Homo sapiens: one gene and its partner. The protein of the gene in region 1 purifies or fractionates together with the protein of each later gene. This does not show direct contact. Each region holds a gene or a part of one and is shown on either strand. Other genes may lie near its edges.

Region 1 (7,019 bases):
TTATAGTCACCATGCTGTGCATTAGATCTCCAGAAGTTATTCATCCCCCATAACTGAACCATTTTACCCTTTGATGAATGACTGTTTACACAGGAAGAAGAGGAAGAATTAATTAAAATATTAGCCCTATTTAATTTTTATGCTACATTAAATAATGACAGTGGAAGTTTTCTCTAAGTAAACATGATAGCTACATTAACAGTAAACTAATTCATTATAATTTTGACACATAAAATGAATATAAAGGTAACATTTGTGAGTGGATTTTTTTAATCACAAAGTAAAGCTTGGTAGAAATACTTTAAGATGCTGTATCGAAATATCTGCTTTTAGTTTGACATTTTAAATCATTTAATTGTTGGCATTTCGTGTAACATACAAAAAATGTTGATTGAAAAAATCTTTTTTAAAAAATGATGCTGAGTAGACTTTATTCACTGTAGTCCTTGAGTGAAGCCACTGGTTGTTGGCTTTTGGACTGCTTTTAGCCTGTTTTTCTAGTTGTACTTCTTTGAGGAGGATGATGATCTTTACCTTACTCTTGGCTTTGCATGCTCAAAGTGATTAGGTTTTTTTAATGAGGCAGGAGAATGGAAATTTGAGGAAAATGGTAGAGAGAACCCTCTCTCATTTACCAAGATGACTTTCTAAGTTTATTTAGTGATGAGCTACTTGGAGATACAAGTCAAATGATGAAGTTCATAGAAATCTTTTGAATCTTGCCACCAGAAAGAGATGACAATAAATCCAACTACTTTTCCCATGCCTTACATTTTTATTTTCTTATATGCACAGTATCTTTTGTATTATAGATGCTTAATAAATCTTTTTCAAATAAATGTATGCTGGAAAATGTTGTAATTGAGGTAAATGGACATTTTTAGCTGGCTATATTGCAGAAGACTTTATTGGGTAGGTGATCTTTTAGACGGTTTTAAAAAATAATGAAGATCTTAACTGGCACACAATCAAGTATCTGTTATATGCCTTCATCTTCCACATTTTATTGTATTTTTTTCACTCCCTTGTGAAGGAAACTAATTTCAACAATGCTGTATGTGTCATGCATTAACCCATTCATAATTAGCAAGAGGTATCTGATTCAGTTTATATTATGGTACTAATTATCTAGCTCTTCAGAATATTTTACATAAAAAAATAACCTCAGGTGAATAAACTTCTGTTTCTGCTCCAGAAACCTTTTGACATTTTTTAATAATCTGTAATCACGTTGACTTAAAATGACATGACAGAAATGCCTGAATGTTGACGAGTTGATGGGAGCAACAAACATCTGCCTGTTAAATTTGGGATCACCACCTACAGCACTACACATATCATTGATCCAAGTGTACCTTGATTGATTGCTTGAAAAGAAAAATCTGGACTTATTTGGATTTATAAGCAAAGTCAAAAACATTTTTCAAAATGTTAAGTTCTAAAAGTAGTAATAATGATGGTGTAGCCCCTTACTAATCAGTGTGCTCTGGGGACCAGCAGCCTCTAAATCATCTGGGAGCTTTTCGGAAATGCAGAAACTTCACCCTAGACCTAGTGAATTAGAATCTGCATTTGAATAAATCTCCAGGTGATGCTGAAATGGGAAAAGTTGCCTTCTCCCTCTCACACGGCGTGTGATGGGGCTGTGGCTTGCTTCTTCAGTGCCCCTCTGCTCAAATCTCTAGGGCAGTATATGGACGGACGGGCAGGTTGTGGGGCTCCGACCCCACAGCAGTGTTTAGGGCCCTAGTGGGAGCGTGCTACCGTGTGCTCTTTTAATTTTGCCATCTATAGGCAGCTTGTGTTAACCAGCTCAATTAGACCCTCTACCTTGTCACTACCTTGTCACAAGGACAGAGGACTTTCTGTATCCGGGGTTCTTGGCTTGGTGTACCGGAAGAGTCACATCACACTTGGGCTTGGAGAATGAGTGCAAGGTTTTATTGAGTGGAGGTAGCTCTCAGCAGATGGGGGAAGCCAGAAAGGAGATGGAGTGGGAAGGTTTTCCCCTGGAGTCCAGCACCTCAGCGGCCTGGGCTGTCTCCTCTGACTGCCCCAGCCAAATTCCGCCTCCTCCCACTGGTCAATGGCTTGCTGGCTTGCCGGTGCCTGCTGGTGCATCCCTCTCCATGTCTAGCCGTCCGTGCCTTCCTCCGCTGACTTGCTCCTCTCCACACCCAGCTGTCTGTTTCATCCAGCTGTCTGTGTCTTCTCGGGCAGATCTGCTCTTCTGGACGTCCAGCAGCTTGTGTGTCTGCCTTCTAGAGTCTGGGGGTGGTGGAGCGGGGGTGGTTATAGGCACAGGATGGCAGGCCAGGGCGGTCTTGGGAAATCCAACATTTGGGCAGGAAATGCCTGTCCTCACCCAGGGTCTGTAGGGGTGGAGCCCTAGCCAGGGACCACGCCCTCTTCTACCCAGCACTTCCCTTCCCTTCTTCCCTGTCATTTAAAGGGACCACGCTCTTACCTTCCCAGCACTTCCATATCAGTGACTGTGCACATTACAGTTTGAGAAATGCTGGTAGTCCATTCCCTTTCCTGATCTCCAAAACATAGGGAAATTTTAGAGGCCAGGATGCATTTAGTAGATTCTGAATCTAAAGGAAACCTAAATCATTCCTTGGAAGTAGACATTGTTTATAGCATCCTCAAATGGAATTAAAAGCATATATGACTAGATTTAGAACAGAAAAATCTGTTTTACATATTTCAAAACCCTTTGGACCCTTGTCTGTTTATGTTCCTATGACTTCTTGAGTTATACATTTTTATTAACAAATGATAAAATTATATTCACTAAATGAACTCATTTGTACCTGTTTTACCAGTTTCAGAATGTTATTTTATATTTCTTAGGTTTTTCTTAGACTTGTAGAAATCATGCTGCTTTGTTCCCTGCAGGAGTTAAAATAAAAATATTAGTAATTATGCATATTTAATTTTCAGAATGCCAACTGATTACTCACAGCAGTTATAAAAGGGAAATGATTTTAGATATTCATAAAACATTTCCTTAGTAAGGGGCTTTCAAGTCTGAAGTTGTGTTATTATGGATATTTCTTTTTAAAATAATCAGGATAAAAAATGCATTTATTAAGATCCCTCTTCTTTTCTCTTTTTCAGATGTAAGACAAAAGTCTACCCTGATGAACTTCCAAACACAAGTGTAGTCATTGTGTTTCATAATGAAGCTTGGAGCACTCTCCTTAGAACTGTTTACAGTGTGATAAATCGTTCCCCACACTATCTACTCTCAGAGGTCATCTTGGTAGATGATGCCAGTGAAAGAGGTACAAACTGGTTTTTTGTTTTTGTTTTTGTTTTTTTGTTTTGTTTTGTTTTGTTTTTTTGTATTAGAAAGCTTTATTATGGCCAAAAAGATAACTAGGCAATGATCTATATTTGCATTATAATTTTACTAGCCCTGCCACAGCCTATCAGATTCTCATCAAGAACCTCATTAATGCCAACTCTAGAAGCAAATAACTAATTCTTTCACTTTCTCTCATGATTCTATATGGTTCTTACCTAAAATTTCAGCCAAAATGACTTTCAAAAATATATCTTTTTTCCAACTCAATTGATTATATTATTGAGCATTCTCATATGATTTTATGGATACTTGACATTAATTAACTAATGAAATCTCTATTATTTTATATCTAAGGCAGTAAATACTGATAGGAATTGGCCACCATTTCTGTGTGTTGAATTTCCATCTTGGTAGTATCTCTGCTATTTCTTAAAACAGTTTCAAAAATTTTTCTTATAAATTCTTATACATGTTACAGATTTTCTCAAGTTGACATTAGAGAATTACGTGAAAAATTTAGAAGTGCCAGTAAAAATTATTAGGATGGAAGAACGCTCTGGGTTAATACGTGCCCGTCTTCGAGGAGCAGCTGCTTCAAAAGGGCAGGTCATAACTTTTCTTGATGCACACTGTGAATGCACGTTAGGATGGCTGGAGCCTTTGCTGGCAAGAATAAAGGAAGACAGGTAAGAATTTATGTGTTCTGTCTGCCTGGGTTATGACTGAACCTCTTAGGACAGTTCCAGATGTCCATCAGAATTTCTCTTCCAAGTTGCTATTTTTAGAAGGTTTATTTTATAGCTTTTCTTAAAAGCACGTTTTCCCACTTGCTTGATAAATAAGACTGCTGTATTCATGCTGGACATAGATAGTTGATTAAGAAATAGTGAAATAATTCAAATAATAAAAACGTGTTAAATTACTTTTTAGGTGAAGGAAATAAATATAATCTAAAATAGTATAATTGTGTTATAAAGCACATTTTCAAAGCACCTTTTTGTGTTCTGACAACCACCCTGTGAGGTAGGTACTGTAGATATTCTTATCTATAACTTATAATGAGGAGGAACAAAGAAGCCACATCTAACTTGCTCCTGTCATTGGAAGTGCTGGGAACAACAATTCAGCTCTTTCCAGTTCTCTGCCAGTGTTCTGTAAACTACACGAGCACCCTTAGTCAGTCTAGTTCAAATCCACCTGGAATGTCTTAAAAATGCACACACACACATGCACACACACAGCACTGAAAAAATTATAATTAAAAAAAGAAACATAAGAGCACAGCTATAAGAATATGTTTAATTATTTCAACAATGTCACCTTATACATACACATTTTGAAATCTGGAAAATTGAATAAATAACACTTATAGAAATTAAGAATCCTTATACATACCTGCAATTCCTTCTGTTGTTGATGAAGTACAAGCATTTTTTAGCAAATATTTATAAACACTGGTGATAAGAGAGTATAATTTCTAAATACCTAGATAACTAACATTGAATGCCAACTGATACAATAACAAAACATTACATAACACCATACTTGCATAGTCATTTCGTCTATAGTAGAAAATTCCTTCTAGAATTGACATTTTTAATTAGACACTCAAGATAGGAGCTACTTAGTCTGAGCTAGTCCAGCCACATCACTTAAACAGCAGGATTTGGTACTTGCCAGGAAGATGGATGGAAGCTGTCAGTAAAATGAAGCACAGCAGTTGAAGAAAGCAGTAGGAACCTTTTAGTCCATAGAGTGTTGTACATGGCTAATAACATTTTTCCACTCTGTGTATTGTACAGTACCCACAGGACAATCAGACTGGCAAAGTAAAATGAACTTAAAAATGAATTTCCTGGCAAATTTTGGTACATTATGTTGTTTTTTTTTTCCACATGTGTTTCATATTCAACTGAATGAGCTTTTAATGTTTCAATACGGTCATACATAGGCTATTTATTTTTTTGATCTAACAACATAATTGCACTGTATTTGCATATGATGAACCCTATTGTCTTGACCTGATTATAAAGTTTAAAACTACCCTAAATAGACAGTCTGTTCAAGATTTTTAGACCTAATTTCTTCTCCTCACAAGTTAAATCATTAAATCTAATAAAGGAAGTGAGAAAAATGTTGATTTTTCTGGGGTCCAGAGTCACCAAGAAGGTTTTCCAAGGCTAGAGGAGTCTTGTTGATCGCAGATAAGTTGAGGCTCTGGTCAGTTGTGTGGAATATAAGACTTCAATTGAAAATGAGTATTGGTGAAACTGGTGTTACAAAACAAGTATGAATAATGGACATTTATGTGCTTTTCATATCTAGGGATGATTCAGAAGCTTATTTGTGTATTTACCTTCTACCAAATATGAAAAACCAACTCTGGTCTTCAGAATTAGCTACAACCAATACAATTTGAGTAGGCCTGAACATTTACTTGTGGAAATCACAGAAGGTTGGTCCCATAATAAAATAAATGAACAGGCATTAGATCAAGAATTAGAGAAGGCACAACATGGATTAAAAGTGTACCTAATGATTTTCCCAAATGAAATTTTCTACCATAGAAAGCTACCATTAAGAACACCAACCTTTCTCTTACTTTAAGAAAAATGGGATAGGCCAGGTGCGGTGGCTCACACCTATAATCCCAGCATTTGGGAGGCCAAGGCAGGTGGATCACCTGAGGTCAGGAGTTCGAGACCAACCTAGCCAACATGGTGAAACTCTGTCTCTGCTAAAAATACAAAAATTAGCCAGGTATGATGGCAGGCACGTTGGGAGGCTGAGGCAGGAGAATTGCTTGAACCTGGGAGGCAGAGTTTGCACTGATCTGAGATCTCCCCACTGCACTCCAGCCTGGGTGACAGGGCAAGGCTCTGTCAAAATAAATAAATAAATAAATAAATAAATAAATAAATAAATAAAACACCAGAGATTAAAGTTGCTTATCTTTCCCTATCTTAAGCTATCATCTAGATTATACATGTAAACTCTTAATTTGAGGACATTTTACTCAGAAATGGTCATGACCCTATCATCTTTCATCGGAAACATTTACTTATACTGACGGATTATGATTTTTGTTGTTGCTGTTTGTTGATTTCTGTTTGTTTTTCCTAGTAGGTGTTTTCTCCATGAAGATGTTCTCAGAACTCTCTAAACTAACGTACCCTACTTGAAATGCAAACTACCAGATCTAATTTGCCATCATCCCTTCTTACCTCCCTGAATGCTATTTCTTTTCAATGGATTATAGCTAAAATGATGCATAATCTCAAAGCAGCTCTACTAATCATGCTGTGGGTGGAGGTTTTATAAAAAATAGACCCTGCTCATCTTGCTAAGTTAGTACTTAGAATGCATTTGGAAATAAACTTGTTTAGATTTCAAAAGATAGCATAAAGTAAACTGTAAGGAATATGTAGTCAAAGGAAATAATTCCATGGACTAATAGGATAAAATGAAGCTAAAGGCATATTAAAGTAACAAAATAATTAAATTTCCTCATATCAGCTATAATCAGTTTGAAGAAGATAATGTAACATTTTAATTATCATGTGTCTATAAATTGGTTTTAATTTCTCTGCAGGAAAACGGTTGTCTGCCCTATCATTGATGTGATTAGTGATGATACTTTTGAATATATGGCTGGGTCAGACATGACTTATGGGGGTTTTAACTGGAAACTGAATTTCCGCTGGTA
Region 2 (7,952 bases), on another chromosome or scaffold:
ATACACTGTGAACACCGGGAAGAGTCTGTGACCGGCGAGCACGCCGCACATCTGCCTTGTCTTGACGGTGGCATCACCCACACTTAGTCATGCACACACCTCTTAGGCGTGAGCAGCTGATGGGTTACTGATGTCAGCAACCAGCACCCAGTCATCTCCAGCCCCCAGAGCCCTGGAGCCCCTGCATTGTTGTCCCCATGCTTCTGACCTCCTCACCCCCCACGAGTCTCCTCTGCTCTTGAACCTCCCCAGTCGGAACCTGGCCAGGTGTCCTTTGCATGCCTGGCCTCCTTCACTCTTGGTAACGTCTGCGGATTCATTCCTGTCTACGCTGCAGTGTTCAGTGGCAACTGCATGAATTCACTGAAAATATACTGTAACGTTTGGGTTTGGCTGTGGCATCTCTTCCACTTTTAACATACCAACTTCACAGCTCACATTATTTTAATCCCTTTAAAAGATAATTGATTTAAAGCAAAAATCATAACAATGTGTTGTGGGGTTTATGACACACGAGAAGGTGTGATGGTGATGGTGTAGGGTCCAGGTGAGGGTGGGGGCACCCCGCTGTGGGGATCTTACAGTGTGCCTGACCGGCTGGCACAGGAGAAGCCGGGACAGGAGAAGCCGGAGGTAGGTCACTCTCCACCCTGGGGCAGCCACTGACAGCAGAGTCGCTGCGGAGGGGCCAGGCGGGGAACACACACGGAATCCTAAGGAAAACCTGAGGCTGGAAGAGAGGACAGAGGAACAGGGCTGTGTGGAGCGGCCAGGGAAGAATCAGCACACACCGGGCCCGGCCAGAGCGCTCGTCACCTCAAAACAAGGTCATCAAAGCCAGAATCACCCCAGCAAAACAGCGCAAGCTGGACCGCTGCCCTCACTCAGCTTCTACAGTTTCTCTGCTCGTGTTCTTTGTCCCTTCCAGGATTCCACGCTGCTTTTAGCTGTCACTTCTCCTGTCTTCTGTTGCCTTCCATGAGCTTTTTGCCTTTGAGTGCACTGACCAGTCACTTTGTATGGTGTCTCTCAGTTTGGGTGTGCCCAGGATGTTCTCACGATCGGAATGCGGAGATGCATTTTTGGCAGGAATATCGCAGAAGTGACGTCCTTCTCAGGTTGTTGTATCAAAGGTACGTGATGCCAATCTACCTTGCCACTGATGGCCCGAGCTTTGTCACATAGATAAGGTGGTTTCTGCACTGAAAAGCTGTTATTACTTTTTTAGGTTAATAAATATGTCAAAGCAGATACTTTGATCCTATGGAAATCTCCAATGAAGCTAATTTAAGTATAAGACACACTAGGTAAAAAGTAACAAGGTAAAAGAAGATATCCCATGCTAAACTAATCAAAGGAAAGCAGGAGTCAATTTCAAGTCAGAGTCTAGGGATAAAGAGGGTCATTTCATGATGACACAGGGGTCAACCAGTCAGGAGCATGCACGATGTGAGCACAGAGTCTCAAAACACATGAAGCAAAAGCTGATAGAGCTGCAAGGAAAAATTACAGACAAATCTGCAATTACAGTCAGAGGTTTCAACACCGCTATCAAGAATTTGTTTGTTTGAGACAGGGTCTTGCTCTGCCACCCAGGCTCAAATGCAATGGCACAATCACGGCTCACTGCAGCCTTGACTTCCTGGGCTCAAGAAATCCTCCTGCCTCAGCCTCCCAAGTAGCTAGGATTGCAGGCATGCGCTGCCATGGATGGGTGAGTTTTTGATTTTTTGTAGAGATGGTGTCTCACTTTGTTGCCCAGGCTGGTCTCTCAATAATTAGCAGAGCAAGTAGACAGAAAGTGGATGATAATATGGGCTACTCAAATAACACAGTCATTGCCGTTTATAGGACACCTCGTGGAGCAACAGTACACAAATTCAAGTGCGCATGCAACAACCGCCAACCATAATCGGGGCCATGAAAGAGTCTCAATAAATTTAAAAGGATCCGAAACATAGAATATGTCCTCTGACAACAATGGCTTTAAAGTAATGATCAACAGCAGAAAGAGCTCTGGAAAATGCACAGATATGTGGAAGTGAAATAGCATAGCTCTAAACTCATGGGTCAAAAAGGAAATCAAAGGGAAAATTATAAATTATTTTCAACTTAATGAAAACAAAAATACAACATATCAAAATTTCTGGGATGCAGTTAAAGGTGGACTTAGAGGGAAATTTATAGTACTGAATGCTTGTACAGATCAGTGACCCCAGCTTCCACCTTAAGAGACCTAAAAAAGAAGAGAAAGTCAAACCCAATGTAAGCAAAAGAGGCTGGGTGCAGTGGTTCATGCCTGTAATCCCAGCACTTTGGGAGGCCGAGGTGGGTGGATAACCTGAGGTCAGGAGTTCGAGACAAGCCTGGTCAACATGGTGAAACCCCATCTCTACTAAAAATATACAAAAATTAGCTGGGCATGGTGGCACATGCCTGTAATCCCAGCTACTCAGGAGGCTGAGGCAGGAGAATCACTTGAACCCGGAAGATGGAGTTTGCAGTGAGCCGAGATTGCCCCCACTGAACTCCAGCTTGGGCAACAAGGCAAGACTCTGTCTCAAAAACAAAAACAAAAACAAAAACAAACAAACAAAAAAACAAGCAAAAGAAAGAATAAAGAGTGGAAGTCAATGAAAAAAAAGTGCATCAACGAAACCAAAAAGCTATTTCTTTGAGAAGATCAATACAATTGATAAACTGCTATCTGATTGTTCAGTTAAAAAAAAAGCCACAATTGCCAGTATCAGAAATGAGAAAGATGACATCACCTCATACTTCACAGATGTTGAAAGGATAAAGGAATATTATGAACAACTTTATGCTAATAAATTCAACAACTTATATGCGATGGGCAATTTCTTGAGCGATACAAACTACATACATTCAGTCAAGAATAAAATAAACTCAGCAGTTGTATATCCATTAAATAATTCAACCACATATAAAAATGATAATACATCATGACCACGTGGGCTTTATCCCAAGAACACAAGATTGATTTAACACTTTAAAATCAATCATTATACTCTATCATATTAATAGATCATCACGCAAAAAGATTCTCAATAGATGCAGAAAAAACAAAATCCAACTTTCATTCCTGATTAAAAAGACTCTCAGCAAACAAGAGAAAGGATAGTCTTTTCAACAGTCTGGAAAAAACTGATTATCCACATACACAAAAAATAAACATTGAATCATATCTCATACTATAAACCCAAATAAACTTAAAATAGGTAATAGACCCAAATGCAAACCTTTAAAACTCTAAAACCCTTGTGACTTTGGGTGAGGCAAAGATTTCTTATATATGACACCAAAAGCAGGATCCATAAAAGAAAAACATAAATTGGATTTCCTCAAAATTAAAAAATTCTGCTCTTTGAAAAACTGTTAAGAGAATGAACACACAATCCAAAGGCTTGGAGAAAGCATTTACAGATCACATATCTGATAAAGGACTTGTATCCAGAATATGCAACAAACTCCCAAACTCAATAATAAGAAAATAAACAACCCAATTAAAAGTGAGTAAAAGATTTGAACTCAACGCTTACTACAGGAGATGGAGAATAAACAGATGAAATGATGCTCAACATCATTGGCCAACAGGGAAACGCAAATTAAAACCACAGTTCCATCTATCACCACACACCTATTAGAGTATTTGAAATTAAAAAGACAAACCATACCAAGTGCTGGGGAGGATGTGGAATGTAAAACCATACAATCGCTTTGGCAGTTTCTTAAAAAGTTTCACATATGGCTACCGTGGCATCCAGCCACTCCACTCCTAGACATCTATTCAAGAGAAAGAAAAGCATTCATCCAAAGACTTGTGCACAATGTTCGGATCAGCTTTATCTGTAAGAGCCAACACCAGAAACAACCCAAATGCCCACCAGCAGGTGAATGGACACAAACTGTGGTACATTCATACACTGGAGTACCATGCAGCTGTAAAAGAAATACGCATTGACAAACCAAATGACGCAGGCAAATCTCAAAAATAATTGTGCTGAGTGAAAGAAGCTACACAAAAAGTACATATTATATGATTCCATTTGTGCAAATCATAGGAAATGCAAAGTAATCAGTAGTGACAGAATGCAGATCAGTGCTTGCCTGGGGATGAGGGAGGGCAGGGAGAGATGACCAAGAGGGAACCCGGGGTGTTCACTATGCTGATTGTGGTGATGGTTTCACAGGAGTATCCGAGTGTTAAAACGTACCAAATTGAAATATGTGGCTTACCGTCTGTCAATTACACCACAATAAGGCTACTTTTTGAAAACCATGAGGATGGCTCAGGTCCGGCTCAAATGCCCCCACCCTGCGTTCCTTCCTTGGGATGTCAGACGCTGGAGCTGGAGCAGAAGGGGACCTAGATGGGCGGAGATCTAGCCCTACTCACCCACTGGCCACGGGGTAGGCGAGGGACGCTCAGCAGGGGCTTCCCGCAGACCCAGGGTCTTCAAGCCCCAGAAGTCCTGATGCCAGAGGGAAGAGGGGATTTGCCCAGAGTGAGGGGCAGGGGCTGGACCCACAGCCCCTCCCGGCGCGCAGACCCCGCCCCCACCCATAACCACGCCCTCAGCCCCCACCACCTCGTCCTCAGCCCCACAACCACGCCCCCAGCATGCCACAATTACTCCCACAACCCGCCCACAGCCCCTGCGACCTGGGTCTTAGTACCAGCTCCATCTAAAGCCGCACCACCGGCCCCTCCCATGCCCCTCCCATGCCCCTCCCCCATCTCTTCCAGGCCCCGCCCTGCCGCAGAACCCGCCCTCAAGCCCCGCCCCCGCCTAACCACAAATCCCGTTCCGGTCTCCTTACATGCCCCGCCCCTTCCCCGCCCCCGCGGGGAATCGACACAGCCTGTCTCCGCCTTTCGCCCCGCCCCCTCCAGGCCCCGCCCCACCCCGCCCCTCGCCCGCGCAGGCCGGAGTCGCGGCCTCCCCAGCTAGTGGTCGCGGGCGCGGTCGCAGGGGCAGCGGGGTGGCCGCCGCGCCAGGCGTGGAGCTGGGTCTGGCGGGCTCCGAGAGGCCCGGGAGCGGCGCGCAGAGCAGCCTCCGGCCGCCGCCGCGCAGGTAAAGCCCCCGCCCAGCCCTGGGAGCGTGGATTCCCACCCACCCCATGACCATCCCCCCGCCGCGAGTGCTGGGGTCTCGGGGGTCCCAGGTTCCGGGGGTCCTAGGGCCGGAGGGTCTAAAGGCTGGAGGTCCTGGGGGTCCGAGCCTCTCCCGGCCGGCTCCGCGCGCGGCCCCGCCGTCCACGCCCAGCGCGGGCCGCGCGCACAGGGCTTGGCTTCTCTGTTTTCTCGGTTTCCTTCTTCAGGCAGTTGAAAGAAAAGGCGCGGTTCTGTGCCCGGTGCGAGCCGCGGCTCCTTTAGGGCTGGCAGGGAAGGGCTTGCTGGGTTATGACAGTTTTTAGGGGTTGTCGGAGTCAGCCAGGCGTTGGCTGCTGGAGTAGCCCCTGGCGCGCGAGCGCCCGCTGGTGCCCGGCCACGTGCCCAGCTTGACCCGCGCTCCAGGTTCGGGAGAAGCTGCAGCCGTCACCGTCCTCCTGGCGTCCACCCTGAGGAGGGAGGGGCTGGGTGGTCCAAGCCGCCGCCACTCCGCCGCCCGGCCTTTGGTCCCCAGCGGTGCTGTAGGTGGCCAGGGGTGGCCGCAGTGACCACCCACTGGGCCATGCGGAGCCCCCTGGCAGTGCCAGCTCCCTGCACTTGTGGGACGCTCCTCCCGGGCGCATTGGGAGTCTCCAGAAGTAAGTTACAGGCAGAGCTGTTTAAGGAGGCGTGCTCCCCACCCCAGACCCTTCAGTGGGCCCTCAACACCCTCCCCACCAGTGGACGCGTTTCCCAGGTGACCGCAGCCGGCAGTGCTGACCACCCTCCCTCCCTCTCCGCTCCCTCCTGCGTCTTCCCTTTCAGAGCTGCCAGAGTGGACTGCACTGCTTCTCCCAGCGGGGCAGGATGGCGGTTTCATGTCTGGTTGGATAAGGCCTTGCCTGCGGAAACCAGCTCCATCCCCAGGCCCTAGCAGAGGCTCGCGTGTCCCCGTCCCCAGGTCAGGTCAGGATGGGCACCGTGCGCCCACCTCGCCCCTCGCTCCTGCTGGTCTCCACCCGGGAGTCTTGTCTCTTCCTCCTCTTCTGCCTGCACCTGGGCGCCGCCTGCCCACAGCCCTGCCGGTGCCCTGACCACGCAGGGGCTGTGGCTGTCTTCTGCAGCTTGCGGGGCCTTCAGGAGGTCCCCGAGGACATCCCGGCCAACACCGTGCTCCTGAAGCTCGATGCCAACAAGATCTCCCACCTCCCGGACGGGGCCTTCCAGCACCTGCACCGGCTCAGGGAGCTGGATCTGTCTCACAACGCCATCGAGGCCATCGGCTCCGCCACCTTCGCGGGCCTGGCCGGGGGCCTGCGGCTGCTGGACCTGTCTTACAACCGCATCCAGAGGATCCCCAAGGACGCCCTGGGCAAACTCAGCGCCAAGATACGCCTGTCCCACAACCCCCTGCACTGCGAGTGCGCCCTGCAGGAGGCCCTGTGGGAGCTGAAGCTGGACCCCGACTCTGTGGACGAGATCGCCTGCCACACCTCAGTGCAGGAGGAGTTTGTGGGGAAGCCTCTGGTTCAGGCTCTGGATGCGGGTGCCAGCCTCTGCAGCGTCCCCCACAGGACCACAGACGTGGCCATGCTGGTCACCATGTTCGGCTGGTTCGCCATGGTGATCGCCTACGTCGTGTACTATGTGCGCCACAACCAGGAGGATGCCCGGAGGCACCTGGAGTACCTGAAGTCTCTGCCCAGCGCCCCCGCCTCCAAGGACCCCATCGGCCCGGGGCCCTAGCGCCTGTTCCGGCAGACCCCCGCCGGTGGCTGCTGTCACTTTTGTAGTAGGTGGTGACTGATGCTGCTTTTGCTCTTCCCTGAGGCAGGTGTCACAGCCATGTGTGCTCCCCACTGTTGCACTCAGGCACAGCAGCACCTCCAGGCTGGGTGGTTTTGCCACACATCCGTGTGACGGATGAGGAACCTGAAGCTTAGAGGAACGGAATGACTGCCCGTGACGATACCATCAGGAAATTATCCCAGTGGAACTTCAACCCGGGCTGTCCATCGTGACATTCCGCCTCCTTCCACCATGCCAGCCTCTCCCACACGGGGCCCTGCAGGCTGTGGATATGCACTCAGAGGACTAAGGGGGTGCTCTGCAAGCGAGAGGGTTCACCAGAGGGAGCTTGGGTGCAGGTTCACCCGCTGAAGGCGCTGATAAGTCCTGTGCTGAGGAGCTGACTTGCCCTTGTTTACTTACAAAGTGCATTGTAGGTAAACATGAGCCTTGTTCCAGTGTTCGAAGTACATTGGAACGTAAGCCCTGTTTCCAGAGCAAAGTAACAGAGACCAGGTTTTTCTAGAGAGCTAAGTGGGATGTGTAGCTCAAACAAACTGTCCTACCCTTTTTTATTCTCAAATGTTTGTTTTGAGTAACCGTAGTGCCAAAATTTCAGTTCAGTAATGGGGTGAACAATATGGAGAGAGACCTGGGAAAAGTCCAGGGTAGCTTGCCCAGGGGAAGACAGCAGCCACATACCTGGGGGCCCGCCTGCTTCCTGCCCCTCTGGGTGTGCCTGATGCGGGAGGCCCTGCCCCAGGGCGATCTCAGCTCACTGCAACCTTTGCCTCCCAGGCTCAATCACTTCTGCTGCCTCAGCCTCCCTAGTAGCTGGAATTACAGGCATGAGCCACCACGCCTGGCTAATTTTTGTATTTTTAGTAGAGACCGGGTTTCACCATGTTGGCCAGGCTGGTCTCGAACTGTTGGCCTCAAGTGATCCGCCCGCCTCAGCCTCCCAAAGTGCTGGGATTACAGGCGTCAGCCACCGCGCCCGGCCCTGTGCCTTGCTTTTTCTACTCACTAAGATATAAAACAGCTCTTTTTC

What was found. Proteins that work in one complex are often made in the same cells at the same time.
Region 2: the proteins of GALNT13 (region 1) and LRRC3 purify together in Homo sapiens (affinity purification with mass spectrometry; 2 studies listed by BioGRID and IntAct, with this or other methods). This does not show direct contact.

Annotation. Positions count from the first base shown.
Region 1 is NC_000002.12:154,238,907-154,245,925, forward strand, and holds part of GALNT13 (polypeptide N-acetylgalactosaminyltransferase 13), read left to right. Parts: intron 1-3,123; coding exon 3,124-3,290; intron 3,291-3,791; coding exon 3,792-3,999; intron 4,000-6,905; coding exon 6,906-7,019. UniProt on the Homo sapiens protein: Catalyzes the initial reaction in O-linked oligosaccharide biosynthesis, the transfer of an N-acetyl-D-galactosamine (GalNAc) residue from UDP-GalNAc to a serine or threonine residue on the protein receptor.
Region 2 is NC_000021.9:44,450,560-44,458,511, forward strand, and holds the start of LRRC3 (leucine-rich repeat-containing protein 3 precursor), read left to right. Parts: upstream 1-4,950; 5' UTR 4,951-5,096; intron 5,097-5,938; 5' UTR 5,939-6,085; coding exon 6,086-6,859; 3' UTR 6,860-7,952.